Linked DNA regions of Homo sapiens. The protein of the gene in region 5 purifies or fractionates together with the protein of the main gene of each other region. This does not show direct contact. Each region holds a gene or a part of one and is shown on either strand. Other genes may lie near its edges. The genes, in order: PDPR, CKMT1B, TMLHE, MMUT, ARHGEF26 and DEK.

What was found.
Region 1: the proteins of ARHGEF26 (region 5) and PDPR purify together in Homo sapiens (affinity purification with mass spectrometry; 2 studies listed by BioGRID and IntAct, with this or other methods). This does not show direct contact.
Region 2: the proteins of ARHGEF26 (region 5) and CKMT1B purify together in Homo sapiens (affinity purification with mass spectrometry, with the first as the bait; one large-scale study listed by BioGRID). This does not show direct contact.
Region 3: the proteins of ARHGEF26 (region 5) and TMLHE purify together in Homo sapiens (affinity purification with mass spectrometry; one large-scale study listed by BioGRID and IntAct). This does not show direct contact.
Region 4: the proteins of ARHGEF26 (region 5) and MMUT purify together in Homo sapiens (affinity purification with mass spectrometry, with the first as the bait; one large-scale study listed by BioGRID). This does not show direct contact.
Region 6: the proteins of ARHGEF26 (region 5) and DEK purify together in Homo sapiens (affinity purification with mass spectrometry; one large-scale study listed by BioGRID and IntAct). This does not show direct contact.

The regions. Positions count from the first base shown.
Region 1 is NC_000016.10:70,153,767-70,159,331, forward strand, and holds part of PDPR (pyruvate dehydrogenase phosphatase regulatory subunit, mitochondrial isoform 1 precursor), read left to right. Parts: intron 1-2,573; exon of another isoform or gene 2,574-2,708; coding exon 2,709-3,113; 3' UTR 3,114-5,565. UniProt on the Homo sapiens protein: Decreases the sensitivity of PDP1 to magnesium ions, and this inhibition is reversed by the polyamine spermine.
Region 2 is NC_000015.10:43,594,962-43,599,906, forward strand, and holds the end of CKMT1B (creatine kinase U-type, mitochondrial precursor), read left to right. Parts: coding exon of another isoform or gene 1-10; coding exon 11-209; intron 210-412; coding exon 413-508; intron 509-894; coding exon 895-1,116; exon of another isoform or gene 1,117-1,117; intron 1,118-1,245; coding exon 1,246-1,331; intron 1,332-1,446; coding exon 1,447-1,570; intron 1,571-2,414; exon of another isoform or gene 2,415-3,231; coding exon 3,232-3,366; intron 3,367-3,865; coding exon 3,866-3,991; intron 3,992-4,195; coding exon 4,196-4,312; 3' UTR 4,313-4,445; downstream 4,446-4,945. Other genes in the region: STRC (stereocilin precursor), read right to left, coding at 4,711-4,799. UniProt on the Homo sapiens protein: Reversibly catalyzes the transfer of phosphate between ATP and various phosphogens (e.g. creatine phosphate).
Region 3 is NC_000023.11:155,514,497-155,520,061, reverse strand, and holds part of TMLHE (trimethyllysine dioxygenase, mitochondrial isoform 1 precursor), read left to right. Parts: intron 1-5,565. UniProt on the Homo sapiens protein: Converts trimethyllysine (TML) into hydroxytrimethyllysine (HTML).
Region 4 is NC_000006.12:49,445,265-49,450,829, reverse strand, and holds part of MMUT (methylmalonyl-CoA mutase, mitochondrial precursor), read left to right. Parts: intron 1-1,902; coding exon 1,903-2,014; intron 2,015-3,044; coding exon 3,045-3,160; intron 3,161-5,565. UniProt on the Homo sapiens protein: Catalyzes the reversible isomerization of methylmalonyl-CoA (MMCoA) (generated from branched-chain amino acid metabolism and degradation of dietary odd chain fatty acids and cholesterol) to succinyl-CoA (3-carboxypropionyl-CoA), a key intermediate of the tricarboxylic acid cycle.
Region 5 is NC_000003.12:154,239,890-154,243,389, forward strand, and holds part of ARHGEF26 (rho guanine nucleotide exchange factor 26), read left to right. Parts: intron 1-480; coding exon 481-690; intron 691-3,500. UniProt on the Homo sapiens protein: Activates RhoG GTPase by promoting the exchange of GDP by GTP. Required for the formation of membrane ruffles during macropinocytosis. Required for the formation of cup-like structures during trans-endothelial migration of leukocytes.
Region 6 is NC_000006.12:18,222,153-18,227,388, reverse strand, and holds the end of DEK (protein DEK), read left to right. Parts: intron 1-1,146; coding exon 1,147-1,215; intron 1,216-1,658; coding exon 1,659-1,670; 3' UTR 1,671-3,529; downstream 3,530-5,236. UniProt on the Homo sapiens protein: Involved in chromatin organization.

The DNA.
Region 1 (5,565 bases), on a different chromosome or scaffold from region 5:
TAATAATGGTGGCTCACGCCTGAATCCCAGCACTTTGGGAGGCTGAGGCGGGTGGATCACCTGAGGTCAGGAGTTCGAGACCAGCCTGGCCAACATGGCAAAACCCGTCTCTACTAAAAATACAAAAAGTAGGCCGGGCACGGTGGCTCACACCTGTAATCCCAACACTTTGGGAGGCCAAGGCGGGCGGATCACAAGTTCAGGAGATCGAGATCATCCTAGCTAACACAGTGAAACCCCGTCTCTACTAAAAATACAAAAAATTAGCCGGGTGTGGTTGCGGGCGCCTATAGTCAGGAGAATGGCGTGAACCCAGGAGGCAGAGGTTGCAGTGAGCCGAGATCACGCCACTGCACTCCAGCCTGGGCGACAGAGCGAGACTCCGTCTCAAAAAAAAAAAAATTTACAAAAAGTAGCTGGGCGTGGTGGCCAGCACCTGTAGTTCCAGCTACTCGGGAGGCTGAGGCAGGAGAATCACTTGAACCTAACAGGCAGAGGTTGCAGTGAGCCAAAATCGCACCACTGCACTCCAGCCTGTGTGACAGGGCAAGACTCCGTCTCAGAAAAAAGAAAACATAGTAAATAGATGACACTTGGTCAGGTGCGGTGGCTCACAACTGTAATCCTAGCACTTTGGGAGGCCAAGGCAGGAGGATCACTTGAGCTCAGCCTGGGCAATACAGCAAGACCTTGTCTCTGAATTACAATTGAAAAACAAACAAAAAAACCCACTTATTTCTAGTGTTCTGCTGTCTAAAAGACTGAGTGCTTTCTGGGAAGCTATTCTGAGTTAATTATGGTGATGCATTAACATGCCACGAATATTTGTACAAACTAGTCGTCCTATAGTCAGCTGCCTAATTTTTGTGGTTTTTTTCTTTTGTTTTTGATTTTGAGGTGGGGTCTCATTCTGTCACCCAGGTTGGAGTGCAGTGGCGCGATGTTGGCTCACTGCAATGCCCTCTCATGCTCAAGTGATCCTCCCACTTCAGCCTCCCAAGTGGCTGGGACCACAGATGCACAACCATGCCCAGCTAATTTTTTTGTATTTTGGTAAAGACAGAGTTTCACCACATTGGCCAGGGTGGTCTCGAACTCCTGAGCTCAGGTGATCCGCCCTCCTCGGCCTCCCAGAGTGCTGGGATTACAGGCGTGAGACAGCACACCCGGCCTAATTTTTTTGGTTTTTTTGTTTTGGGCGGATCACCTGAGTTCACAAGTTCGAGACCAGCCCGGCCAACATGGTGAAACCCCGTATCTGCTAAAAATATAAAAATTAGCTGGGCATGGTGGCAGGCACCTGTAATCCCAGCTACTCGGTAGGCTGAGGCAGGAGAATTGCCTGAACCTGGGAGGCAGAGGTTGCAGTGAGCCGAGATCATACCATTGTACTCCCACCTGGGTGACAGAGCAAGGCTCCATCTCCAAAAAAAAAAAAGGTAATAACCCATTTTGGAAAATATAAAGAAGGAAATTAAAATCACCCATATTTTGTCTATTTAATGGTAGTAACTATTTTTTTTTTCTTTCTTGAGACGGAGTTTCGTTCTTGTTGTCCAGGCTGGAGTGCAGTGGCGCGATCTCAGCTCACTGCAATCTCTGCCTCCTGGCTTCAAGCGATTCTCCTGCCTCAGTCTCCCGAGTAGCTGTAAGCCATCCAGCTAATTTTGTATTTTTTGTCTTTACCAAAATACAAAAAATTAGGTGGGTGTGGTGGCGCATCTGTGGGCCCAGCTACTTGGGAGGCTGAAGTGGGAGAATCACTTGAGCATGAGAAGGCATTTTTGTATTTTTTCTTTTTTTAGTAGAGATGGGGTTTCTCCAGGTTGGTCAGGCTGGTCTCGAACTCCTGACCTCAGGAGATCCCCCCGCCTTAGCCTCCCAAAGTGCTGGGATTACAGGCGTGAGCCACCGTGCCTGGCCATAATCACCGTTAATAGTTTATTCTAGTCTTATTTGTTGTACATATGTGTATATATGTGTGTATGCATTGAATATAGATGTGCATGGTCTTGTTGGGATTATATAAAAAAGTCTTTTTTTTTTTTTTTTTGAGACAGAGTTTTGCTGTGTCAACCGAGGCTGGACTGCAGTGGTGCAATCTTGGCTCACTGCAGCCTCTGCCACCCAGGTTCAAACGATTTTCCTGTCTCAGTCTCCCTAGAATTATAGGCACACTCCACCAGAATCTTGGCTCACTGCAGCCTCTGCCTCCCAGGTTCAAGTGATTTTCCTGTCTCAGCCTCCCAAGTAGCTAGAACTATAGGCACACTCCACCACACCCAGCTTATTTTTGTATTTTTAGTAGAGATGAGGTTTGCCTCATCTCTGTTCAAGGCGTGAGCCACCACGACTGGCCAATATAAAAACATTTTTCTAAAGTACTGGACTGATAAGGTATTTTATTAAGTGAGTGAGTTTTCTTCCTAAACGTTTTTGTTCTATCTGGTCTTGTGACTTTATGTTTATAAAATAGGAAACAAAATGCGTACCTCTGTTGTTACAAAAATTACCGCGGCGTCTTTTATATTTCACATGCAGTTTTTCACATGGTAGAAATCGCACAGTTTCCCAAAAGCTGGCAGGGTTGTGGGAGGAGGCGGCTGTGCCCCATTGCAGTGACACCAGGGGACCCTTCCCACGGTGCTGCTCTCTGTGCCGAGGGTCTGAGTGTCGCTGGATGACTCGGCGTTTCCTTTCTTTCTTAGGGCATGGATTTCATTGGTCGCGACGCCCTCCTGCAGCAGAAGCAGAATGGAGTGTATAAACGCCTCACCATGTTCATCCTGGACGACCATGATTCAGACCTAGACCTTTGGCCTTGGTGGGGAGAGCCCATTTACCGGAATGGGCAGTATGTTGGCAAGACCACCAGCAGTGCCTACAGCTACAGCCTGGAGCGCCACGTTTGCCTGGGCTTTGTGCACAATTTTTCTGAGGACACGGGGGAAGAGCAAGTGGTGACAGCAGATTTCATCAACCGGGGAGAGTATGAGATTGACATCGCGGGATACCGCTTCCAGGCCAAGGCCAAGCTCTACCCTGTCGCCTCCCTCTTCACCCAGAAGCGCCGAAAGGATGACATGGAGCTGAGTGACTTACATGGGAAGTGATGCCACCAGGGCAGCCTCACCTCCTCCCCATCATCTTGTCCTAGAGTGGGCGTCACCTTGGAGCTTCTCTTCCTTCCGCCTCTGTTCCTCTTCTGGAGCCTTTGCCTCCCATCTCTTATCTCCTTGATATAATTTTGAACTTGACCTACTTTAAACTTTTTTGCTCTGCAGCCTTCCTTGCCCTTCCACCTCCTCCTCCTAATATTCACTCTGGGCTCTTCTTCCCTTCCCACCCCTCACTCAGCTTCTCGTGGTGGCAGGAGGTATGTCTGACAGGACAGAAGCAAGCTCCACTGTGGACATGAGTGATGGTGACAGCTGCTTTCAAATTCTGCATCTCAAGGCAGGGCAAGCCGGGGTGGTGCAGGTCTCAGGGCACGAGTCCCTCTCCCTTGGGTTCCATTTTCTTGGAGCAGCCTATTAGTTCTGGTGGGGTTGCCGTGTGTCGGATGCAGCCCTGAGGGGCAGCTCGTGCCTGCAGCCCGGCAGCTCGTTCTCCTGTTCTGCTGTGCTGTGGGCTGGCACTCGATACCTCTGGCAAGAGGATGATTATCTACCTCACTGATAAGAGGCATCGCATGGACGTTCTCTGGTCTGTAGTGGAGACAAGCAGTTAACCTAGCACCATCCTCATCCTCCCTGCAGAAGCCATTAGCAGACCTTTGGGCCAGGGCAGCCTCCCTATAATTTTCTTCATCTCTTGCTAATCTCTATAATAAGGTTGCTTTTTCTTTCTTAGTTGAGTAAACAAGTAAGCCACAGTGTTTGAAAGGGAAAAACCATATTGCCTTGTGTGTTGCTTTTCCCAGTCAAAAGGGTCTGACCTTAGAAAGTCCCCACCAGTGATGCTGAGTGTTCTGCTATGGAAACAATGCTGCTTTTCTCTCAGCTGTCCAAAGTTCAGCCGTTCCTCCTTCCCCTTCTCCCAGTGCGTTTGACTTTGTCAGGTCAGCCTCACTTGTCCCTTTCACAGTTGGCCCATAAAGTCATGTTTCTCTCCCTTTAGAATAGGGAGGGGAAGGGATCAGGTGTGTTGTCCTGGGCCTTTCAACCTTGCGGGCTGTGCTGAGTTCCAGAGAGCTGCCGGAATTCCAGGTTTGACTCTCCAGCACAGAGCAGAGCTACACAGAGGTGACCCACGTTAGTCCACTGAGAGTTCTGAGTCCAAAGGGTGTACGTTGCATAAGGCTAGAGACCGCTTTTCCTCCTTTCCCCCCAGGCTCTTTGTTTCCCTCCACCCACCCTTCCATATCCTCTGGAGCAGGAGACAATGTGGGTGCCCAGAAGTGCCCTGCGCTTTCAGGCAGTGTCTCTGTTTTCCCAAGGTGAAACTTAGATATCATGGACTGTTGTCCAGCCTCAATGCTTCATTTTCCCCTTGCATATCAACTGCCCTAATCTGACTTTTTTTAAGTGCAAATAAACTGCTATAAGACATTTTGGTTAGTAAAACTCTAGCCTTTGGCGTGTTGGTATCTTGGAAGCATTAGCTCTGATAGGTCTATAAGTGTATTAAGGGACATCCTTCCATTTCATTAGAGCAGCTTAAAATGCTCAGGTGTCTGCCTTCTCTGGTGTTTCTTTGGGATCTCTGTTTACCCACTTACGCTGGCTCCTTCTAGACATTTCTTGCCACTTCCCCAACTAGACCACTCCTAGTGATTACTGACTTTAGTGCCTAAACCTTTTTGGAAGGTTCTGGTTGGCTTGTTAGAGGAGCATATGATTAGAATTCTGTTTGGGGGTCTAGTTGTCTTGGAGCAAGTATGTACTTAACTAGCCGAGAGATGCTGCCTCTAGGCAGAGAGGAGGAGAGGTGTTGCCGGCTGGAGGGCCAACCAGTGAACACCAGCTGTGAAGGCCTTGGGAGAGGAGGAACAGGCCCTTGGGCAGATGCAGGCATTACCAGCAGGGAGCAGACTTACCTCCGAAGATGGAGACAGGTGACTGAGAGCTGCAGGCCTCCTCTGCTCTTCCAAACACGTAGCATTTGCACCCCTCCAAAGCCATCTTTGTAAAGGAAAACGTATTTGTAATTGAATCCAGAAGAATTTAGTTACACATAGACATAACTCTTCAACCTTAACTATGGCAATACATTTGTGCTTTAACTGTTACATAGCAGTATCACCACTTACCAGGATCCAAATCGAAATAATAAAAGCTGTCTCCATAGTTTAAAATCGAATAGTGCCATCATCACAGTATATTAGTCAAATAGAAGCTTCATCAGAAATGTATCCCACATAGAGTTTTAAGACTTGGATTCTCTTCTGCCCTTGTTAATCTCCAACTAATTACTACAGATTGACACGTTTTTAATTAGCTGTCCTTTGTAAGAAGTCAGGAAATCTGATGCTGTGTCCAAAATTATGCACTGTTTGTTGAAGTAGAACCAGAAATCCTGACCTCCTGTTAAATGACATCAGTTTCCCCCTCTGAGCAACAGACT
Region 2 (4,945 bases), on a different chromosome or scaffold from region 5:
CCCTCCCCAGCGCTGAGTACCCAGACCTCCGAAAGCACAACAACTGCATGGCCAGTCACCTGACCCCAGCAGTCTATGCACGGCTCTGCGACAAGACCACACCCACTGGTTGGACGCTAGATCAGTGTATCCAGACTGGCGTGGACAACCCTGGCCACCCCTTCATCAAGACTGTGGGCATGGTGGCTGGAGATGAGGAGACCTATGAGGTAGGGGGTCCCCAGAGTCTCCCTGATGATCCAATTCATCTTCCCAGTAATCCCAGCTCCTTTCCCCTAAAGACCTCTCACTTTCCCCCAAGACTCTGAGCCCCCCATACTTAAGTTTTCTGAACCAGTGAAATCAATGCACAATTGAAGTCTGGGGAGGGATTCCCTCTCCTTAACCATCTCTCCCTCTTAACTCCCCTTAGGTATTTGCTGACCTGTTTGACCCTGTGATCCAAGAGCGACACAATGGATATGACCCCCGGACAATGAAGCACACCACGGATCTAGATGCCAGTAAAGTGAGTTCAAATATCCCACTTCTGATTTGCATTGCCTGTGTACAACACTCTGTATCTCCAACCCCTTCACCTTATTTCCTGACTCATGGTCATTATACAGCTGAGCTTTTAATCTTAATGTAAGGAAAGAATCATATCTTAAGGGGCAGCATATATGGAGATGGAAGGATAGATAAGAATGACCATGACCCAAGGTGGGTGGTTTGGGGAAAGGTCTGCAATGCCCCCTTCAATTCCAGTGCTTTCCCAAAGGGCCTCTTCTTCCAATGCATGCAGGAAGAATGCACAAAGAGTCCTCTAATGCCTAAGGAAGGTCTCTCCTTTCCCAGGGGCCCTCAGTTCCCACCGTGTTTCTGTGACTTACATTCATTTCCCTTATCTCCCAGATCCGTTCTGGCTACTTTGATGAGAGGTATGTATTGTCCTCTAGAGTCAGAACTGGCCGAAGCATCCGAGGACTCAGTCTGCCTCCAGCTTGCACTCGAGCAGAGCGACGAGAGGTGGAACGTGTTGTGGTGGATGCACTGAGTGGCCTGAAGGGTGACCTGGCTGGACGTTACTATAGGCTCAGTGAGATGACAGAGGCTGAACAGCAGCAGCTTATTGATGTGAGGGCCTTAAGAGGGTGCTGGTTGGTGGGAGCAGATGGGGAAGGCTGGGCCAGATGAGACATGGGCTCTGAAAGGCCCAGGGGCCACCATGAAGATTCTTAACCCAAGTCCCGTTACTCTTCCCAGGACCACTTTCTGTTTGATAAGCCTGTGTCCCCGTTGCTGACTGCAGCAGGAATGGCTCGAGACTGGCCAGATGCTCGTGGAATTTGGTATGAAGCTGCTCATTACCTCTTTTGTCTTCATGCCCTCATAAATGCTTTTTTTCCCTCTATCTCTCCCAATTCTTGCCTTGCCTCTTGATCACTGTCCCTCTCCGGCCCTCAGGCACAACAATGAGAAGAGCTTCCTGATCTGGGTGAATGAGGAGGATCATACACGGGTGATCTCCATGGAGAAGGGTGGTAACATGAAGAGAGTGTTTGAAAGATTCTGCCGAGGCCTCAAAGAGGTTAGAGAAGACTATGTAGGGGAGCTAGGTGGGAGGACATAAGGAAAACCAAAGAGTAGCATAAATAGATTATGTAATTTACCAACCAACCCAGGACATGTCTTATAGTAAAAAGGACTATCTAGGACTCACTCCAGGACTAAAGGTGTAAACCAGCTGGGACCATACTGGGAAAACCAGGACATGTGGTCACACTAAGATTAGGAAAAGAAAGAGTGTCAGGAATCTTAGGAAGTGAACAAGGCTGTTGACAGAGAGTGCAAAGAAGGAATAAATGAGATGGCACGTCAGTGCCTGGGATGTGTGCAGTGGGATGGTGAGGTGTGCAGATAAGGAAAACATTCGAGCTTAGATTGATGTTGGCGGGGAGAGGTTGCTGTGTTCATGACTCTAATATAACCACCCAGTTCTGAGACAAGGTAGGCCTTGACTCTGGATTCTATCATTCTTGTTAAAGTATCGGGTCTAGGCTTTAAGTTGAGAGTTCGGAGAGAGACTGGGGAAGGTGGAGGATAGAATGGTTCAAGTTCTAGAATATGTGGCTCTAGATGAGAGGTTGAACTGAATCATCAATCCTACATGGATTGGGTCTCCGTATTCAAGTCTACATTAGAAATCCCCATAAACTCAATTCAATTCTTACTGTATGTTCTCAAACATACAGTTCTATTTTAGGTTTGCAAAGAAAAAGAGCTCCTCTTTTAGATTCTGAGAAGTTTCTACTATTTTTGGCAAGTAATAGATAACATATTCTGACTATGAGTGGGTAGGGAAGTACCTTTAAATTATATGCCTCAGTTTCCTCATCTGTAAAATTGGGATAATGAGATTTTCTACATTTTAGGTTGTTGTGGGGATTAAGTGAAATACAGGTAAAGTACTTGGTCCACAGTAAGTGCTTAATAAGTGTTAAAGTGTTAGCTGCAATATTATTCTGGATGGAAGAGTTTCCCCCCATGTTCAGCATGTAAGATATCCCCTATGGCATGGTTCCTTCTGAACTATAAAGAGGATCCCTTTACTCATGTTGGGTTGTGGTCTTTGTGACCATCATTCTGCTAGATCCCTTGTCTCTTGAACTCTAATAGTCATCTTCATGACTACATGGTTAAGTGAAGCCAAACGCCTTCCCCCCGCCCCCTATTCCTATGAATCTGGCTTTTCTGCTCTGTTTTCATCTTTCTCTGCATTCACACAGGTGCTCCGTTCACAGCTAACAGAATGTTATCTTACCTCTTCCTGGCAAAGCTTACACCTTCATCTTCTGTCTGAAGGGACCCTTCTAAGCTCTAGGCTCATTAGCAAAGCAAAGATAATCGATGCATGCAGACCTCATTGAATAATCAGTCATCTCTCAGTTCAGTTTACCACCTCTGTTCATTTCCCTAGATCATCCTTAATACACCACTCCTTCGAGTTTTCTTCTTCCACATAAGATATTTTTTCACAATCTCATTATTATGCACATCATAATTTTGCATCATGCATGCATGAAAACAATAACAAACCTTTTTCATTTAAAAAAAGACCAATGTCATTCATTCACAGCCAAGTTTCTGTTCTAGACATATTTCTAGTGTTCTTGTGGGTCTAGCTAAGGGAGGGTCCAGGGTTAATGAAATATCCCTGATTTTTCGTTAACAAAACCTTTGTGGACTCAGGTGGAGAGACTTATCCAAGAACGTGGCTGGGAGTTCATGTGGAATGAGCGTTTGGGATACATCTTGACCTGTCCATCTAACCTGGGCACTGGACTTCGGGCAGGAGTGCACATCAAACTGCCCCTGCTAAGCAAAGTAAAGGAGTTGTGGGGTTACAGAGGGGTGTGAGTAAGGAAGGGTGGGTTGTGGATGGGGAGGGAGTGGACCCTTTGGAAAGGAGCCAAACATGTTGTGGCTAAAGGGTCAGAGGACAGGCCAGGCACAGTGGCTCATGCCTCTAATCCCAACACTTGGGAGGCCAAGGCAGGCAGATTACTTGAGCCCAGGAGTTCAAGACCAGCCTGGGCAACCTGGTGAAACCCCATCTCTACTACAAATACAAAAGTTAGCTGGGTGTAGTGGAGGCTGAGGTGAGAGGATCACTTAAGCCTGGGAAGTCGAGGCTTCAGTGAGCTGTGATCACTCCAGCCTGGGTGACAGAGAGAGACCCTGTCTAAAAAAAATTAAAAAAGAAAAAAGAAAAAAGGAAAAAAAAAGTTCAGGAGACAGAGCTCTGAGCAGGTTCAGGGCTCTTTCAGGTAGGACTAGTCTCTGCCTCTATTGACCCTGCTCCCAATCCCTATCTCCTCTCTAGGATAGCCGCTTCCCAAAGATCCTGGAGAACCTAAGACTCCAAAAACGTGGTACTGGAGGAGTGGACACTGCTGCTACAGGCGGTGTCTTTGATATTTCTAATTTGGACCGACTAGGCAAATCAGAGGTGAGATCCTAAGGGATTAGGACAAGGAGAGGTATAGGTCTGCGAGGGCCGAAATATGGCAGTGAGTGAGCCTCCGGGATGTAAGATAATCTGAAATGAAATTCAGGTTGAGTGGGGAGGCAATTGGAAATGAGCAGGCAAGTCAGTCAGTGATAAAGAAAAACTCAGACTGTAGGAAGCAGATCAAAGATTAGTGTCCCTTAGGTGGAGCTGGTGCAACTGGTCATCGATGGAGTAAACTATTTGATTGATTGTGAACGGCGTCTGGAGAGAGGCCAGGATATCCGCATCCCCACACCTGTCATCCACACCAAGCATTAACTCCCCATCGCCAGCTGATGACTCAAGATTCCCAGGAGTTCTGCTCATTCTAATGATGGCCCATTCTACTTGCTCTGGACCTGCCCCCGCATCCCCTGCCTCCATCCTAGTAAAGACTCCTTGCTATGCTGCAGCTGTCTGTGTTACTTCTAATGGTGGGGTGAGGAGGGAGCAGCCTTCAGGAAATGAAAAGAGGCAGTGGGATTATTTATGATGGAAAGAGACTCCAGATATGGCAACCCAGGAACACTGATTCTCAGGTGGGTGGAAAGCATTAACATTTTACCCATATTCCTCATCAGCTTCTGAAAATAATCAGGATGCACTTCTGTTTGCACTTTATTCATTATGACTTAAGATTTCTCTCCCCACAATCTCCTTCTACTGTAGAGACAGGCTCATAGCAGGTGGCCAAGGAAGCTGATAGTCAATACCAGGGACCAGGAAGGTCGTGACCAGTCCTGGAGGCCCCAGGCTGTACTTCGACCTATAATAGACAGGGAATGGGAGTAATATCACAACTCAGCTCTCCAGGAGCATTGATACTTGGAAATTAGCGCTCTGCCTGTAGACTCCTTCACTCCAGGGATCTCCCTGGGTGCACTCTAAGAGCCAGACAGCACCAAATTAGGG
Region 3 (5,565 bases), on a different chromosome or scaffold from region 5:
TGACAGGATCAAATTCACACATAACAATATTAACTTTAAATATAAATGGACTAAATTCTGCAATTAAAAGACACAGACTGGCAAGTTGGATAAAGAGTCAAGACCCATCAGTGTGCTGTATTCAGGAAACCCATCTCACGTGCAGAGACACACATAGGCTCAAAATAAAAGGATGGAGGAAGATCTACCAAGCCAATGGAAAACAAAAAAAGGCAGGGGTTGCAATCCTAGTCTCTGATAAAACAGACTTTAAACCAACAAAGATCAAAAGAGACAAAGAAGGCCATTACATAATGGTAAAGGGATCAATTCAACAAGAGGAGCTAACTATCCTACATATTTATGCACCCAATACAGGAGCACCCAGATTCATAAAGCAAGTCCTCAGTGACCTACAAAGAGACTTAGACTCCCACACATTAATAATGGGAGACTTTAACACCCCACTGTCAACATTAGACAGATCAACGAGACAGAAAGTCAACAAGGATACCCAGGAATTGAACTCAGCTCTGCACCAAGCAGACCTAATAGACATCTACAGAACTCTCCACCCCAAATCAACAGAATATACATTTTTTTCAGCACCACACCACACCTATTCCAAAATTGACCACATAGTTGGAAGTAAAGCTCTCCTCAGCAAATGTAAAAGAACAGAAATTATAACAAACTATCTCTCAGACCACAGTGCAATCAAACTAGAACGCAGGATTAAGAATCTCACTCAAAGCCGCTCAACTACATGGAAACTGAACAACCTGCTCCTGAATGACTACTGGGTACATAACGAAATGAAGGCAGAAATAAAGATGTTCTTTGAAACCAACGAGAACAAAGACATCACATACCAGAATCTCTGGGACGCATTCAAAGCAGTGTGTAGAGGGAAATTTATAGCACTAAATGCCTACAAGAGAAAGCAGGAAAGATCCAAAATTGACACCCTAACATCACAATTAAAAGAACTAGAAAAGCAAGAGCAAACACATTCAAAAGCTAGCAGAAGGCAAGAAATAACTAAAATCAGAGCAGAACTCAAGGAAATAGAGACACAAAAAACCCTTCAAAAAATCAATGAATCCAGGAGCTGGTTTTTTGAAAAGATCAACAAAATTGATAGACCGCTAGCAAGACTAATAAAGAAAAAAAGAGAGAAGAATCAAATAGACACAATAAAAAATGATAAAGGGGATATCACCACCAATCCCACAGAAATACAAACTACCATCAGAGAATACTACAAACACCTCTACGCAAATAAACTAGAAAATCTAGAAGAAATGGATACATTCCTCGACACATACACTCTCCCAAGACTAAACCAGGAAGAAGTTGAATCTCTGAATAGACCAATAACAGGCTCTGAAATTGTGGCAATAATCAATAGCTTACCAACCGAAAAGAGTCCAGGACCAGATGGATTCACAGCAGAATTCTACCAGAGGTACAAGGAGGAACTGGTACCATTCCTTCTGAAACTATTCCAATCAATAGAAAAAGAGGGAGTCCTCCCTAACTCATTTTATGAAGCCAGCATCATCCTGATACCAAAGCCGGGCAGAGACACAACCAAAAAAGAGAATTTTAGACCAATATCCTTGATGAACATTGATGCAAAAATCCTCAATAAAATACTGGCAAACCGAATCCAGCAGCACATCAAAAAGCTTTTCCACCATGAGCAAGTGGGCTTCATCCCTGGGATGCAAGGCTGGTTCAATATACACAAATCAATAAATGTAATCCAGCATATAAACAGAGCCAAAGACAAAAACCACATGATTATCTCAATAGATGCAGAAAAAGCCTTTGACAAAATTCAACAACCCTTCATGCTAAAAACTCTCAATAAATTAGGTATTGATGGGACGTATTTCAAAATAATAAGAGCTATCTATGACAAACCCACAGCCAATATCATACTGAATGGGCAAAAACTGGAAGCATTCCCTTTGAAAACTGGCACAAGACAGGGATGCCCTCTCTCACCGCTCCTATTCAACATAGTGTTGGAAGTTCTGGCCAGGGCAATCAGGCAGGAGAAGGAAATAAAGGGTATTCAATTAGGAAAAGAGGAAGTCAAATTGTCCCTGTTTGCAGACGACATGATTGTTTATCTAGAAAACCCCATCGTCTCAGCCCAAAATCTCCTTAAGCTGATAAGCAACTTCAGCAAAGTCTCAGGATACAAAATCAATGTACAAAAATCACAAGCATTCTTATACACCAACAACAGACAAACAGAGAGCCAAATCATGGGTGAACTCCCATTCACAATTGCTTCAAAGAGAATAAAATACCTAGGAATCCAACTTACAAGGGATGTGAAGGACCTCTTCAAGGAGAACTACAAACCACCGCTCAAGGAAATAAAAGAGGACACAAACAAATGGAAGAACATTCCATGCTCATGGGTAGGAAGAATCAATATCGTGAAAATGGCCATACTGCCCAAGGTAATTTACAGATTCAATGCCATCCCCATCAAGCTACCAATGACTTTCTTCACAGAATTGGAAAAAACTACTTTAAAGTTCATATGGAACCAAAAAAGAGCCCGCATTGCCAAGTCAATCCTAAGCCAAAAGAACAAAGCTGGAGGCATCACACTACCTGACTTCAAACTATACTACAAGGCTACAGTAACCAAAACAGCATGGTACTGGTACCAAAACAGAGATATAGATCAATGGAACAGAACAGAGCCCTCAGAAATAATGCCGCATATCTACAACTATCTGATCTTTGACAAACCTGAGAAAAACAAGCAATGGGGAAAGGATTCCCTATTTAATAAATGGTGCTGGGAAAACTGGCTAGCCATATGTAGAAAGCTGAAACTGGATCCCTTCCTTACACCTTATACAAAAATCAATTCAAGATGGATTAAAGATTTAAATGTTAGACCTAAAACCATAAAAACCCTAGAAGAAAACCTAGGCATTACCATTCAGGACATAGGCATGGGCAAGGACTTCATGTCCAAAACACCAAAAGCAATGGCAACCAAAGCCAAAATTGACAAATGGGATCTAATTCAACTAAAGAGCTTCTGCACAGCAAAAGAAACTACCATCAGAGTGAACAGGCAACCTACAACATGGGAGAAAATTTTCGCAACCTACTCATCTGACAAAGGGCTAATATCCAGAATCTACAATGAACTCCAACAAATTTACAAGAAAAAAACAAACAACCCCATCAAAAAGTGGGCAAAGGACATGAACAGACACTTCTCAAAAGAAGACATTTATGCAGCCAAAAAACACATGAAGAAATGCTCATCATCACTGGCCATCAGAGAAATGCAAATCAAAACCACTATGAGATATCATCTCACACCAGTTAGAATGGCAATCATTAAAAAGTCAGGAAACAACAGGTGCTGGAGAGGATGTGGAGAAATAGGAACACTTTTACACTGTTGGTGGGACTGTAAACTAGTTCAACCATTGTGGAAGTCAGTGTGGCGATTCCTCAGGGATCTAGAACTAGAAATACCATTTGACCCAGCCATCCCATTACTGGGTATATACCCAAAGGGCTATAAATCATGCTGCTATAAAGACACATGCACACGTATGTTTATTGCGGCACTATTCACAATAGCAAAGACTTGGAACCAACCCAAATGTCCAACAATGATAGACTGGATTAAGAAAATGTGGCACATATACACCATGGAATACTATGCAGCCATAAAAAATGATGAGTTCATATCCTTTGTAGGGACATGGATGAAATTGGAAACCATCATTCTCAGTAAACTATCGCAAGAACAAAAAACCAAACACCGCATATTCTCACTCATAGGTGGGAATTGAACAATGAGATCACATGGACACAGGAAGGGGAATATCACACTCTGGGGACTGTGGTGGGGTCGGGGGAGGGGGGAGGGATAGCATTGGGAGATATACCTAATGCTAGATGACACATTAGTGGGTGCAGCGCACCAGCATGGCACATGTATACATAGGTAACTAACCTGCACAATGTGCACATGTACCCTAAAACTTAGAGTATAATAAAAAAAAAAAAAAAAGAAGAAAAGTACAATTGTTCCAATAGAAAAATGTGAGAAAGGACTGAACAGACAAATCATTAAAGCAGGAGTCAGCAAACATTTTCTATAAAGAGCCAGATGGTAAATATTTTCAAACTTTGTGGGCTATATGAGTGAATGGAGCTATAGACAATATGTAACAACATGGACAGCATGTGTTCTGAAACAGGCATTACAAAACCAAGCACCAGATTTGACTCATCAACCATAGTTTGGTAGTCCCTGCATTAAAGAAACATAGATGTCTAACAAATATAGAAAGTATTCTTATTAGCCTTAGTAAGCAAATAAGTTAAAATTATTACAAGATAGCAGTTCCACTTTAGTTACCAAATTAGAAAAAAATATATTTTAAAAATAAGAATACTCCATTTTGATGGACACATATGTACTGTTGGAGGGAATGAAGATAAGTAGACTTTCTAAAAAGTAATTTGATTATGTATATCAGAACTCTTAAAAGTTTATATCTTTGAAATTTCTAAATACAAAGATACGAACTTTTAAGAAATGTAATATACATTCTATTTCTAAATTATAGAAATATGGTTAAAGATGATCACTAATAAATAATAGGAAATTTTTTAAAAATAAATGTACATACCCAGAATAACAGATGGGTTAGGTAAATCTTGGTAATGTATATTTTGTAAGCTTTAAAAATTAATTTTAATGAAGGTTGAATTTTTAAAATGATAAAATTTAATTTTAAAAATTGTTAAAATGTTAAGTGACAATGGCAGAGTCCCAAATTTTATATATATAAATTACATAAACTATATTTATATACATAAATTACATAAAATAAGAGAATGTACAGAAAAACTGGAAGGAATGATGCCAGGCTGTCAATCATAGTTTCATCTGGGTGATAGAATGATAAACATGGTGACTTTTAATTTCCTCATACTTTTTTATGCTTTCCAAATTATCCAAAGTGTGATACTTTTTTACCAAGGGGAGGGAGGAAAAGAGAGAGAAGTAAAAAGGAGAGACAAGTTGTCAACATAGTCTTTCACTCCTTCTGCTGCTTCCTTTGCTTATCCTGAAGATTTTCTAAAGCATTTCAGGGTTGGTTTTCAACTTTTTTTGGGTGGGGTGTGCACAGCAGGTGAAGCCACTTACAAAGTAATTTTATTGTATTGTGTTGATGTCATATAATTAGACAGCAATGTCCTACATCATGTAGAAGAGGAAGGCAGCATTGAATAGTACTGAACTTGTAGCAGCAAGAAGGTGGGGTTCTAGTTCCACCTATAGTACTTAGTTGTGTGATCTTGAGTGAGTCACTGACTTTTTCTCCATCTGTAAAATAAAGATTAGCCCCTTCTAGCTCAAACATTCTGAGTTCCTATATAGATGGAAGACAGGGATGGGGGCAAGGGGAGAGAGTGCCAAGTAGGCTTGTAAAAGCCTACTTGGATTATCATTCTTTGATGACTTGATGAATTTTCCAGAAGATCTTTTACTATATAACTATAATTCTGTAAACTTAT
Region 4 (5,565 bases), on a different chromosome or scaffold from region 5:
ATATTTTCATTTCTCCTCTGTTTAATTCTGAATCTTGAATCCCATGTCTATCTCTTGGTTATTTGGAAGTACATCTCATAGAAACCTGCTAAAAATGGTGCATGGGAGATAAATTATTTGAAACTTTTCCTGTTTGGGAATGTCTTTATTCTATTTTTATAATTGATTAATAGCCTGACTAAGCTTGACATTATTTCCATTCAGGAAATTCATAAGCAAGTTTATAAGCATTGATCTGTTTTTTATTCTAGATTTTTATTCTGGCTTTCAATATTTCTGATCAGAAATTTGATGCCATTCTCATTCAGGATCTTTCTTTCTGAAAGTATTGGGACCTCTTCTTTATTTTTTGTATTGATGTATAACTTGGTGTATTTTTTCCTACATGGTACTGAACCTTTATTGGGTCTTTTTCATCTCACCTTTTTTTAAAAAATATTTTTATAGCTCTAGGAAATTTTCTTGTATTATTTCTTTGACAGTATTTTTCTTGTCATTTTCATATGGGTTCTCTTTCTAGAACTCCTAGTCATAAGCTACGGACCTCCTTAAATAATATCCTGATGTGCTGATGTTCTTATCTTTTTTTTTTTTTTTTTTAAGACAGAGTCTTACTCTGTCACCAGGCTGGAGTGCAGTGGCGTGATCTCGGCTTACTGCAACTTTTGACTCCCTAGTTCAAGCGATTCTCCTGTCTCAGCCTCCCGAGTAGCTGGGATTACAGGCACACACCACCACACCCGGATAATTTTTGTATTTTTAATGGAGACGGGGGTTCACCGTGTTGGTCAGGCTGGTCTCAAACTCCTGACCTCGTGATCCACTCACCTTGGCCTCCCAAAGAGCTGGGATTACAGGCATGAGCCACTGCTCCCTGCCTGCTCTTATCTTTTCTATAGTATATCTGTTTGCCTTTTTTTTCTGTGTTCTTAAAGATTTGTCAACTTTATATTTCTACTTATTTTTACATTCATGTATTATATTTTTGATTCGTAGAGCTCATTTTTGTTTTCTAATTTCCCCCTTATAATTAATGTCATCTTCATTTGTTTCATTAGTACAGAATCCATTTATATTCTGAATTCATGATATTTTCTGAAGTTTTCTTTTACATCCTGTATTGTCTCCATTTTCTCTCTGTGCTTTTTGTTTTTAGTCTTTAGTCAGAGTACAGGCTTTTATTTCAGTAAGACATCTTACCCTTACTTCTGTCTGTATTTGGTATTTGATAGTTCATTGTGTCTCGAGTTCATTTTCTGTAGACAGTAAACTTTGGTTCTCCTGACAGAATGAGAGAGGGGTGGTTGCAGACTCTCAAATTGTCTTCTTCTTTTTAGCTTCTCATTTTACACTTACGTAGAATCCAATATAGATTCTTCTTTCTTGAATTCATCAGGGAAAAGCAGGTTGACCTTGATCCTTTCTGCTAAGTCATATATCATTCCACTGTCTGTTTTCTGCCTTCATATATGAAGCTATGATTGAAGGTTTAAATGTTTCCTGATTTCATTAAAGATGAGGTTACATTGTTTCTCTGCAGCTCAAATCAAAAGTAAATTGCATTTTAAAATATATTTTTCTTACAGACTTTATGTAATTATGAAAACTTTATGTACCTAAAAATAAAGATTAGAGAATTGATGTTGCTTTAATTTTCTCCCAAGACTTAAGAGGTTTTGTGTTTTTTGGAATATACTTGTTAGTTGTCTTTTCAAGTAACTATAAACACACAAATTCTAATTAATGACTTTGATGTTTATTTAATTCTGTTCTTATGAAACATTAACATTTAGTTTATAATTTTATTAATATTAGTAATTATATAACACTCATAACAAATTTATATAGTTTACACACATTTTTAATATTCTCTTTTAGTTTTGTTAATGTTTTTCTTTTTAGCTCATTAATGAAATTGAAGAAATGGGTGGAATGGCCAAAGCTGTAGCTGAGGGAATACCTAAACTTCGAATTGAAGAATGTGCTGCCCGAAGACAAGCTAGAATAGATTCTGGTAAGATAGTGAGAAAGTTCATATATGAAATCCAGTAGTTAAAAAGAAATTCATTTCTGTTTGAAGATAACATGTATAGTTAACAAAACAAAAATAATGAAAAATGGAACTTGGGTAAATTTTTTCTCATATACTTGTATCTATCTATATATGTATTTTCACATACATGGATGCACACAGGCAAGCATATGTACAAAGTGTGTGTGGATGTCTAACCATTGTATATATGTACATGTTTGTGGGTAGATGTCATTAACATTTTGAAGATGACACTGTTGATGATCACAGTGTTCTCTGCATTGGAGTATTCATTCATTCAATGAATACTTCTTTAGTTTATTTTGTTTGAGGCACTTGCTATGTCTGGGCATACAACTGTGAACAGGACAGACATGACCTCTATGACCTCTATGCACACAAATCTTACATTCTAGTAAAAGAGAGGAAAATGAACAAGTAAATAAAGAATTATAGATCATGATAAGTGCTATGAAGGAAATATGAAGGAGTATAACCAGGGGTAGGGGTTGTGGGAAGTTTTATATAAGAGTAATAATCTGGTAGTTTGAGGTAAAATATATTCTTTATCATGTAAGGAAGTATCTTTGTAATTTTGATTTACTAATAGATTATAGAAGGGTTCTTTTTTTGTTTAAAAGTGACTGGCTGAATTCAAAAAAATATTAGAAAAGCTACTGGGTATTCATTCTCTACCTTATAAATCTTAGATGGCAGCTGCTCTGATTGTTATTTCGAAGTGTTAAAAGATTTATTAGAAACCGTGGGAAAGTGTATATTAATAGTTTGGTAGAATAATGAAAGTCCTTCCTTACAGAGACTCTGACATATACCTCTACTTTCCTCTCACACCCCCTTCTCAGATTGGGATTTGCTGATCTATATTGAAGTTGCATTAAGAATTAAGAATACTACTTAAAGATATTAAATTTATAAGGAAAATACATCATAACCAGAGCATTACAATTAGGTAATTATTTGTGAATAAAATTTTTCTTTGGGAAATTACCAGGTTCTGAAGTAATTGTTGGAGTAAATAAGTACCAGTTGGAAAAAGAAGACGCTGTAGAAGTTCTGGCAATTGATAATACTTCAGTGCGAAACAGGCAGATTGAAAAACTTAAGAAGGTATTAATAGCTTGCTTTTTTTTTTTTTTTTAAGTATTTTCTGTGTTCTGGGCTCTGGCTAAGCTTTTAAACTGTCCTGCTTAAATTAATCCTTACAACAGCATGAGGTGTGTATTAATTTCCATCATTTCAAATGTAAGGGAACTAAAGATAAGGCATTGAGAAACTTGCTCAGGATAAATAGACAACCAGGACTCAGTCTTAGTCTGTTGACACCAAAAACTTGTTTTAAACCATGATATCTACCTCTGTGAAACTTATAAGTTGTTATTAAAAACCACACTACAATAATAATACCTTCCATAATTTATAGATTAAAACCAAGGCTTAGATGATTATGTAACTTACTAAAAATTAAAAACAGAATAAAGTTTAGAGTTATTATTTGAACCCAGGGCTTCTTATTGTAATTTCTTTCACCAGAATGATGGCATCTGATACTACTTTGAAATAATTACTTGCTTTTTGATTTTTAAAATTCAACTATATTTGGTAGTGCTTTAGTAAGGTACAGTTTACAATAAACTTTATTTATTTTGATTGAAACTAGAGTATCGTATTCCCTTCTTATTTTTAGTTTGTCACTGAGTTGATCCAGAGCATATGAAATACTAAAATAGATAAATCAAATTAATTGTCACTGTTGTAACCTATATATTTTTGTTGTATGAAGCTACTTTGGCCTCTTAATCTTTGGCATTTGTAAGTACTGCTGTTTCCAAGGTAGGGAGCTTATACATTTAATGGTTTTCTTTGTTTACTTTTCCTGAGATTGTTTAATGTATGGCTTTTTTTTTAGTTCAATCTATAAAAATCTAATAGTATTTATTTTTGGAAAACCCTTTCTTTTCTGTTATACTTTAGGTTATTAACTTTATATCTTCATAGCCTGAAGGATTTCATTTATCATAAATAATGATAAGCCTTATTTTGGGCAACAGAGAGAAATTCATTAATGACAATATAGCAATAATAGTTAACATTTATTGAGCACTTACTGTGTACCCATACTGTACTAAATCCTTTTCTTGAATTGTTGTTTTTGTGTATTGTTTTATTTAACAGGTAGTTACTATTTTTATTTCCATTTACAGATGAGGGAACTAATGATTGGAGAGTCTCATTTAGTTGCTCAAGTTTATAGTATAAGTGACAAAGCTGGGATTTGAATGCAGGCTTTTTGACTCTAGAGCCAGTTTAGGAGAAATGGATATTCTGATGTAACTTTTTCCTAGTTTTGAACTTTCTTAGGACCATGACCAAATCAAAGTTCTTCTATTACAAAAATTAATTTTCATAGCTAGAATCAGATATTTTTATAGCAAAATATATTTCTGCTGCAATACTCTGAGCTCTCTTTAGTAATGAACTCAAGTTTATATTTTCTTACGCTTTCCTTTTACCTATGGTTTTAACAATATTTTACCTGTGGTGGTAATTTTTTTAAAAATGTGAACTATCTCAACAGTAATTTTATATTAAATTATTTTTCTGTAACCGTCAGCCCTAATTAATTTTAGCATCTGTTTTCACTCCCTGAATTTTAGTAATCTGTTGTTGAGATAATTATAGCAAACTACCTAATCTAAGGATGACTAATTTTCTAGTAAACCAGAAAAGGTGTACTTCTTAGGTCTTTGCTCAAATGTCACCTTATCTAAGAAGCTTACAGTGATCCAATATCTACAATAGCACCCTACTACCTTGTGCCAAATCACTTCGTTATTTACTCGATTTACTTTATTTTTCTCTTAAATTGTATGTGTTTATTGTTTCTTTCTCCAATAAAAGATAAAGAAAAATGGGCATTTTTATGGAGAATTTGGAGTTGAGTTTTTTCTTGCTCTAAATATAGTTGGACCTCCATATCTGTGGGTTCCACATCTATAGATTTAACCAATAATGAATTGAAGATATTTGAGAAAAAAAGAATGGATATGTCTGTACTGAATATGTACAGACTTTTTTCTTGTTATTTCCTAAACCATACACTATAACAACTATTTATATAGTATTTACATTGTATTAGGAATTATAAGTAATCTAGAGATGATTTAAAGTATACAAGAAAATGTACATAGGTTATATGCAAACACTACATCATTTTATATAAGGGCCTTGAACATCCCTGAATTTTGCTATCTGTGGATAGGGTGGGCAGTGGGTCATGAAACCAATCACTCACAGATACTGAGGGATGACTATAAATTTTCTGTACCTCTGCTTATATATGCTATATAATACTAGTGGCATCTTGAGCAGTATATTTTAGACTCTTTTACAGGTGGTACAATTTGTAAAAAAATGGATTTATGCAACTTTATTTTGACAAATTATTGGCAGAGCAGAGTTAGGACCCAGGGAAAACTTTTTTACTGTGCTTTTCATTGTATATCTTTTTCTTA
Region 5 (3,500 bases):
GGGTGTCTTGCCAGAAGCAAGCAGACCTCTGGGGCTCTTCTCTTCAATGCATGGTCATTTGGAGATGGGGGGTTTGGGGGGTGAGGTCTTGTTACCCAGAGCATGAGTAGAAGGCTCCTCCTTCATTCTGCAAATAGAGATGTGGAAGCTGGGGAGGTACACCTGCTGGAGCATGACCAAGATGCATGTAAGGATGCAAGGATCACTTATTATAACAGTTCCAGGATGATGTCAATACTTGAGATGCAATTTAGTGTGTTACATCCATAAAAATAGTAATTAGGTTTAATTGGAGGGGGTTACATTGATTCATAATCAGTAGATAGAATTCAAATTCCAATTCATAGTTTAAAATAAGTCATTCTTTCCCTCTCCTTCCTGCCCACTCCTTGCTGTTTCCACCAAAATGTGCCTCGAAAACTGACAATGTCAGTCTTATCTGCTGAATAATTGACGTGTTCTTTTCCCTTTCCTTTACAGTGAAGAAAGTTACAACGTCAATGATTATTCCTTAAGAGATCAGCTATTGGTGGAATCTTGTGACAATGAAGAGCTTAATTCTTCTCCAGGGAAGAACAGCTCCACAATGCTCTATTCAAGACAGAGCTCTGCCAGTCACCTCTTTACTCTGACAGTCCTTAGTAACCACGCGAATGAGAAAGTGGAGATGCTACTAGGAGCTGAGACGCAGTAAGTATATGTGGGGAAAAGATTGGAATAGCTGATAGTATCTCCCTGACCTGATTTTCTTTGGTTTACAGACTTCCTAAAAACAGCAGCTACTATTCATGTTTTTGTTGAGCACCTACTGTTCGCTAAGCACTATGACTGGGTAATTTTTACAGATGTTGTTCTTTTCATTGTAATCTTCTTACAGGAGAAGGATGTTGTTATTTTTTCCCTATAAGTCCTGATAGATGCACTGTGCTTTAGGTGATGTCTTTATTTTTATAGAGTGGTTTAAAAATCATTTTACTTTTTTCATTGACAAAAATATGATACACTATCCTTAAGGAATATGACTCAACTGGTATTTTGAGTCTAGGCCATAAGCCTTCTTAGGTAATGGAATTCAGGTCGTTTCTCAGTCACCTACCTTCAACCAGAGAGCAGAAAGCCCAATGATTTCTGTCAAAAGAGCTACCCAGTTTACGGAAATATACTGATAAATCCTCTTTCTAATCCAGAGTTTATGCACGACCAAAACAGGCGTCCTGTTGGTGCCTGCAGTTTCGCCAGCAGTTAGTGTGCACTTAGTTCTCACATTGGATGAGTGGCAGTGAGGGTTAACTTTCAAGTCCACCTTAGTGATTTTTTGGTCCACTTAAAGATGACTGACCAATGTTTTTGTTTAGAAACTGGAAACTTCCTCTTGCAATAATCATCATGGGCAGATATTATATTGGGTCAGAGAGTGGAACAGTGGAGGGAAAGGAGAAGTTCCCTAATTCTTTGTCCTCTCAGATTCCTGCCTCCAACTCCATGTCTGCCAGGGTTCCTAAATGGTGTGGTTAAAATGGATCAGCAGCTGATGAATAACAACCCTAAAATTGTAGCAAGATCTTAGAGAAAGTGATCCCAAAGAGGTATCTTCACCTTAAGACTGATTTTAACAGTGTTCCTAGATGATTAACGAGAATATTCAAGAAAAGTTATTGAAGGACACTTGCTAAAGCGCAGTAAGCTTCGCAGCCTTTATGCAAGGTCATCTTAACAGGCGTAAGGACCATTGCAGCAACGTCTCCAGTAGGGGAGAGAGATTGGGCTCAACTTCCAACACAGCATGGGCAAGTGGGAATTCATAGCCATAGGGCAGGATGGAGGTCAGTGGATGGAAACTTACTGAGAGGAAATATCAGAGATAAGGGCTATTCTGGCTAAACTAACCAAACAGGATTCTTGCTGAAGACAGGCCAGGGTAATTAGACATCATAACCTCTGGGATGATGGAGAATAATGAATCTTATCAGATATTGAGGATGGGGTAGGGGATATTCTTGCCAAATTGACTTAGTAGGGTTCTTTGCTAAAACTGGATTTTACGAAGAACTGTACAGATGAGCCTAGGAGAAGGTACAGAAATCTAACTGAAGTTTGGCCAAGCCAAGAATCTTTGTCAAGAGACATAAGAAAAATGTGAAAATTACAAGGCACCCACATAAAATGTCAAATTATTTCATATCTTTTGGCACTAGAAGTAGCATTTCACAGGCTAGAGAAAAAACCAAGGACAGGTTGGTGAAAGCTGTAGCATATTCCAAATGAGCTGGAGAGTTCACCAAGGTAATGAAAAAAGAAATATATTTCATAAGGCTACAGCTACCATAGACAGTGGTTCCTCTGATGGATCTGGGCAAAGTAAATTAAAAGCCTTCTGGAAAAGATTCACCATCGTAGATGTCATTAAAAACATTCATAATTTCATGGGAGGAGATCAACATATCAACATGAACAGGAGTTGGGAAAAGTTGATTCCAACTCTCATGGATGACTTTGAGGGGTTCAAGACTTCAGCGGAGGAAGCAACTGCAGATGCAATGGAAATAGCGAGAGAACTAGATTTAGAAATGGAGACTGAAGATGCAACTGAATTGCTGCAATCTCATAATAAAACTTGAACAAATGAGGAGTTGCTTCTTCAGGATGAGCAAAGAAAGTGAAGTTGCTGTGAGCATTGTGGAAATGACAACAAAGGATTTAGAATATTCCGTAAACTGAATTGATAAAGCAGTGGCAAAGTTTGAGACGATTGACTCCAATTTTGCAAGAAGTTCTGCAGAGGATAAAATACTATCAAACAGCATTGCATGCTATACAGAAATCTTTCATGAATGAAAGAGTCAATTGATGCAGCAAACTTCACTGTGGTCTTAAGAAACGGCCACAGCCACCCAAACCTTCAGCAACCATCACCCTAGTCAGCAGCCATCAAAAAAAAAAGGGAGCTTCATCTTCATGTGTTTGTTTACAAAACAAACAAATGCCTTTCTCTGAGATCCCAGAGTTCTTCCCCTAAAGGTGCTGAAAAGCGCTGATGGCATTCCAAGCATGCCCCTCTGTGTTTGCGGCTGTGGGGAGGTGAGCTTGGGTGGGCGTGTGCTTGCTGATCTGTGAGGTGACCAGCAAGTGACACACCCAAGACCAGGGTCAAGGGGAGGCATTACTTGAACTCCAAAAGTGGTTTAAACCTCTTGGCCAGTGAGGACAAACTAGACTTCCTTTGTGTGGGGAAACTTCTCCTCAAAACAGAATTTTTAGTATGCCTGTGCTTTGGATTTTATATGACTTTAAGGATGAGAATGACTTTAACACTTTGGAAATCAGTAATTTTCCAGTGTTCCAGAGAATTCTCAGAAACTAGAGACTTCCCTTTCCCCGTATAGTTAGTAATGGTGAAAGTGTTGCTGGTTTTGCCTTGTGTTTTCCTTTTCTTTGGTTTACAAGGATTGTTTGTTCTTTATTCAGGCCTTGCCAACATCTCAACAGAGATTTTCCTGACT
Region 6 (5,236 bases), on a different chromosome or scaffold from region 5:
ATATGCATACACATAAACATCTCAATGCCTTACAGTATTACTGCCCGCATGTCCCACCTCCAGCCCTAAGGCGTTTTTCCCCTATCTCAGTAGATGGAACGTACAATCGGGTTTTATACCGAGACATTCCATTGCCCAGGGACAGGCAGGAGACAGATGCCTTCCTCTTGTCTCAACTGCAAAGAGGCGTTCCTTCCTCTTATACTAACCCTCCTCAGCACAGACCCTTTAAGGGTGTCGGGCTGGGGGACGGTCAGGTCTTTCCCTTCTCACGAGGCCATATTTCAGACTATGACATGGGGAGAAACCTTGGACAATACCTGGCTTTCCTAGGCAGAGGTCCCTGCAGCCTTCCGCGGTGTTTGTGTCCCTGGGTACTTGAGATTAGGGAGTGGTGATGACTGTTAACGAGCATGCTGCCTTCAAGCATCTGTTTAACAAAGCACATCTTGCACAGCCCTTAATCCATTTCACCCTGAGTTGACACAGCACATGTTTCAGAGAGTAACAGCATCTCAAGGCAGAAGAATTTTTCTTAGTACAGAACAAAATGGAGTCTCCTGTGGTCTACTTCTTTCTACACAGACACAGTAACCATCTGATCTCTCTTTCTTTTCCCCACACTCTGTGGTCCAGGCTGGAATGCAGTGCCACCAACACAGCTCACTGCAACCTCAACCTCCTGGGCCCAAGCCATCCTCCTGCTTCACCCTCCTCAGTAGCTGGGATTACAGGCATGCATGACCATGCCTGGCTACTTTTTAAATTTTTTGTAGACACAAGGTCTCACCAGGTTGCCTGAGGCTGGTTTCGAATTCCTGGGCTCAAGTGATCTTCCCACCTAGGTTTCCCAGAGTGTTGGAATTACAGGCGTGAGCCATCACATCTGGCTTGTTTATGGTTAGTTAATTCATTCCAGACTCTCAGCCTGAAAACACTGAGAATGTTTGCATGCTAGTTTTCCACATCATATACAATATTATTAAAATACTCATTTGGAATAGAATTCCATATGGGTTAACCAGAGTACTGTTGGGATGGTTGTGGCTATTTGCACGTAGCAGATTTCCTGCTTTTATTCAAAGACAATATTACTGGATTTTAAAATCTGCTTTTAACATTATTTTTCCTTTTCACTATACATAGGTCTATGAAAATTATCCTACTTATGATTTAACTGAAAGAAAAGATTTCATAAAAACAACTGTAAAAGAGGTAAATATTTCAGTCTTTCAAGTTTGACTTTAGAAATATAAGACAAAAGTAATTACATAAAATACTCCATATTTTTCAAAATATTCATGTCACTAAATATCACATTTGATCCTCACATTTCTTCATAATAGGGAAATTTATTTCTTCTCATTCCCACTTTAAAGCTTAAAATTAAAGTTTGAACAGTTAGTGATAAGACCTGAACTCAGATTATGATGTGGCCTCATGGTGTACCTGGGTAGCTGGGCATCTCAACGTTGCTCTCACAAATACTTGAGGAAGTTCCTGTCTACGAGGCAAAGGTGAGGGGAAGATCAGCAGGTAGCTGTAATTCTGTATTGATCTCAACTGATTTTTGAAGGACAAAATAGTAAAATAGATGTGGAAAAAATGGGATAAAGGTTTATGATTTATGGCAAAATAATGTTTCTCTTTCATTACAGCTAATTTCTTGAGATAGAGGACAGAGAAGATGACTCGTTCCCATAGATTTGAAGATCTGATTTATACCATTATACCAGCAAAGAGAATGTATTTCCTTTTCTAAATCCTTGTTAAGCAACGTTAGTAGAACTTACTGCTGACCTTTTTATCTTGAGTGTTATGTGAATTTGAGTTTGCTGTTTTAAATTGCATTTCTATGCCATTTTTAGTTTAAAATCTTGCATGGCATTAATTGTTCCTTGCTTTTATAGTTGTATTTTGTACATTTTGGATTTCTTTATATAAGGTCATAGATTCTTGAGCTGTTGTGGTTTTTAGTGCACTTAATATTAGCTTGCTTAAGGCATACTTTTAATCAAGTAGAACAAAAACTATTATCACCAGGATTTATACATACAGAGATTGTAGTATTTAGTATATGAAATATTTTGAATACACATCTCTGTCAGTGTGAAAATTCAGCGGCAGTGTGTCCATCATATTAAAAATATACAAGCTACAGTTGTCCAGATCACTGAATTGGAACTTTTCTCCTGCATGTGTATATATGTCAAATTGTCAGCATGACAAAAGTGACAGATGTTATTTTTGTATTTTTAAAAAACAATTGGTTGTATATAAAGTTTTTTTATTTCTTTTGTGCAGATCACTTTTTAAACTCACATAGGTAGGTATCTTTATAGTTGTAGACTATGGAATGTCAGTGTTCAGCCAAACAGTATGATGGAACAGTGAAAGTCAATTCAGTGATGGCAACACTGAAGGAACAGTTACCCTGCTTTGCCTCGAAAGTGTCATCAATTTGTAATTTTAGTATTAACTCTGTAAAAGTGTCTGTAGGTACGTTTTATATTATATAAGGACAGACCAAAAATCAACCTATCAAAGCTTCAAAAACTTTGGGAAAGGGTGGGATTAAGTACAAGCACATTTGGCTTACAGTAAATGAACTGATTTTTATTAACTGCTTTTGCCCATATAAAATGCTGATATTTACTGGAAACCTAGCCAGCTTCACGATTATGACTAAAGTACCAGATTATAATGCCAGAATATAATGTGCAGGCAATCGTGGATGTCTCTGACAAAGTGTGTCTCAAAAATAATATACTTTTACATTAAAGAAATTTAATGTTTCTCTGGAGTTGGGGCTCTTGGCTTTCAGAGTTTGGTTAATCAGTGTTGATTCTAGATGATCAACATAATGGACCACTCCTGAATGAGACTTAATTTTGTCTTTCAAATTTACTGTCTTAAATCAGTTTATTAAATCTGAATTTTAAAACATGCTGTTTATGACACAATGACACATTTGTTGCACCAATTAAGTGTTGAAAAATATCTTTGCATCATAGAACAGAAATATATAAAAATATATGTTGAATGTTAACAGGTATTTTCACAGGTTTGTTTCTTGATAGTTACTCAGACACTAGGGAAAGGTAAATACAAGTGAACAAAATAAGCAACTAAATGAGACCTAATAATTGGCCTTCGATTTTAAATATTTGTTCTTATAAACCTTGTCAATAAAAATAAATCTAAATCACTGGTGTTTTAAGTCACTTGCATTTGATATCTTATAGGTGTATATAGCATTTCCTTATGGGGAATAATTCTGAAAAGGGATTTTTAAATTGATTCAGCCCTATAACCTATACAATTTGGAATACTCTTTTGTGGTAATGGACCATTTTCTTGGAGTGACTTCACAAAACTGAATAATTAAGGTTAATTTTATGACCATTTGCTATAAAGAAGGTAAGTAGTCATGCATAGAGTATTTGGAAGTGAGGAAATGGAGTTGTTCTGTATGAAAGTTCTTGATGAGTACGCACACTTATTAAATGGATGTATCACCACTACAGTACAGAGTACATGTGAAAGTCTAGTTTTTTATTAGTTTTACACAACCAGCTATTCATGAACTGTAGTTAAAACATTGTAAATCTGTATATTTACTGCTACTCAATTACAAAATCTTCAGATGGCATTGAAAAAACATATCCAAAGTAACTCAAGAAAAAAGTACCATGGCTTCTTAAACAAAAAATCAAATGAAGTATGTCACTTGATAGGAAGTTTAAAACACACATTTACCATACTTTAAAGTAGGTTTTCCCCTACTTGTAGCACAGTTCAAGTGCCTGGAAACTAACATAATAATTTACTGTTAACCATTTCAAACTTAACATTTTGCATTTATCACTTTAAAACACATGCTGTCTAAACATTTTAATACATGATACTTTAAAGCAGAATACTTGCCAGTCAGTACCAATGAGTCTCAACAAATAACCTAAATATCAGAGTTGTCTTGGGTTAACTTTTGAGATATACAGCTGTTGGCTTGTTTTGGGACCACACTTTGATTGGGGGGGGCGGGGGGCGGGCGGTGGGGGAGGTGTCTTAAATGCCTGAGGTTCACTGCACATTCTTGGTGTGTTAGGTATTTACTCGTTATAAACTGACCTACTTTTAAATTTTTAAAATACTCAATATTTTGAAGTCTCTTTAAAGTCATATTTAGTCCCTTCTTTAAAGCAAACCAGTATATTATTGTTCAAAAACAAAAGCATATTTCTAACCTGTATACTGAAGTTTCTTGGCAAAATAGGCATCCTGAAGACCCTGCAACCAGTGTTTTATTTTAGAATGAGATATTATTAAACTGTTTTCTGTCATGAGTGTTTTTAAAAAAAAGATAAAAGTAAATACTTGCCATGTTCTTAGGCCTTTAAAATATAGCTTATAAAATGTATACTATTTACCAGGAGAGCTCACATTTTTCTGCAGTTTTCCAGTGGACCTGCCTATGGAATACTGTAAAGAAAAATCTGCAAAAATATTCCTAGCAATTGAATCAGTGCTTTTAAATAAAAGAAGTGGAGAGGGGCTTGGTTAAATTATTCTGACAAGTTTTTTTGCTAGTGGTTGCCAAAATTAAGGATATTTAAAGTGTCCTATCACCCAAATTTGGCTTTAAGAAAAAGCTATATTCTGTGTCTATAGTGTGAAGCCCACACTATCTGTGCTGCATTCTCAATGATACAATACCTATCTGGAAACTTTCCTGTTTTGCCAATGGGTGCACAAATCTAAAACATTTTATCACAAAAGGTACTTGAATTTAAATTTCTTTTGAACACCCAGTAGGAGGAAATATGTACAATACAAAATACCTAGAAGCTTCATTTTACTGTCAACTGGAGTTTGTGCTGTATCCAAAAAAAAGTTCTATCTAAATTTTAAGTAAAAGCTCAATATTGGACCTATATAAAAATTAAGGCTCATTGGTAAAGATACTGATAAATTGTCACAGAAGAAAAACATGGCTTTATCTGGTTTTTAAATGATTCCTGCTTGATTGACTTGGTTTCTCAATGTATGAAAATTGATCAGCCATATAAAATGTGAAATCTAAAGGGAACTTCCAGCCATGGAACAATCAAATCCATGGCCTCAACTGAAACTTACATTCTGCTTTATTCTGAAATCCAGACTTTCAGCAGTAGTTGAACCTATGGAAAATGCAATTAAATCTAAGTGCTTATAAGGTTTTTTGAGGTCAGTGCTT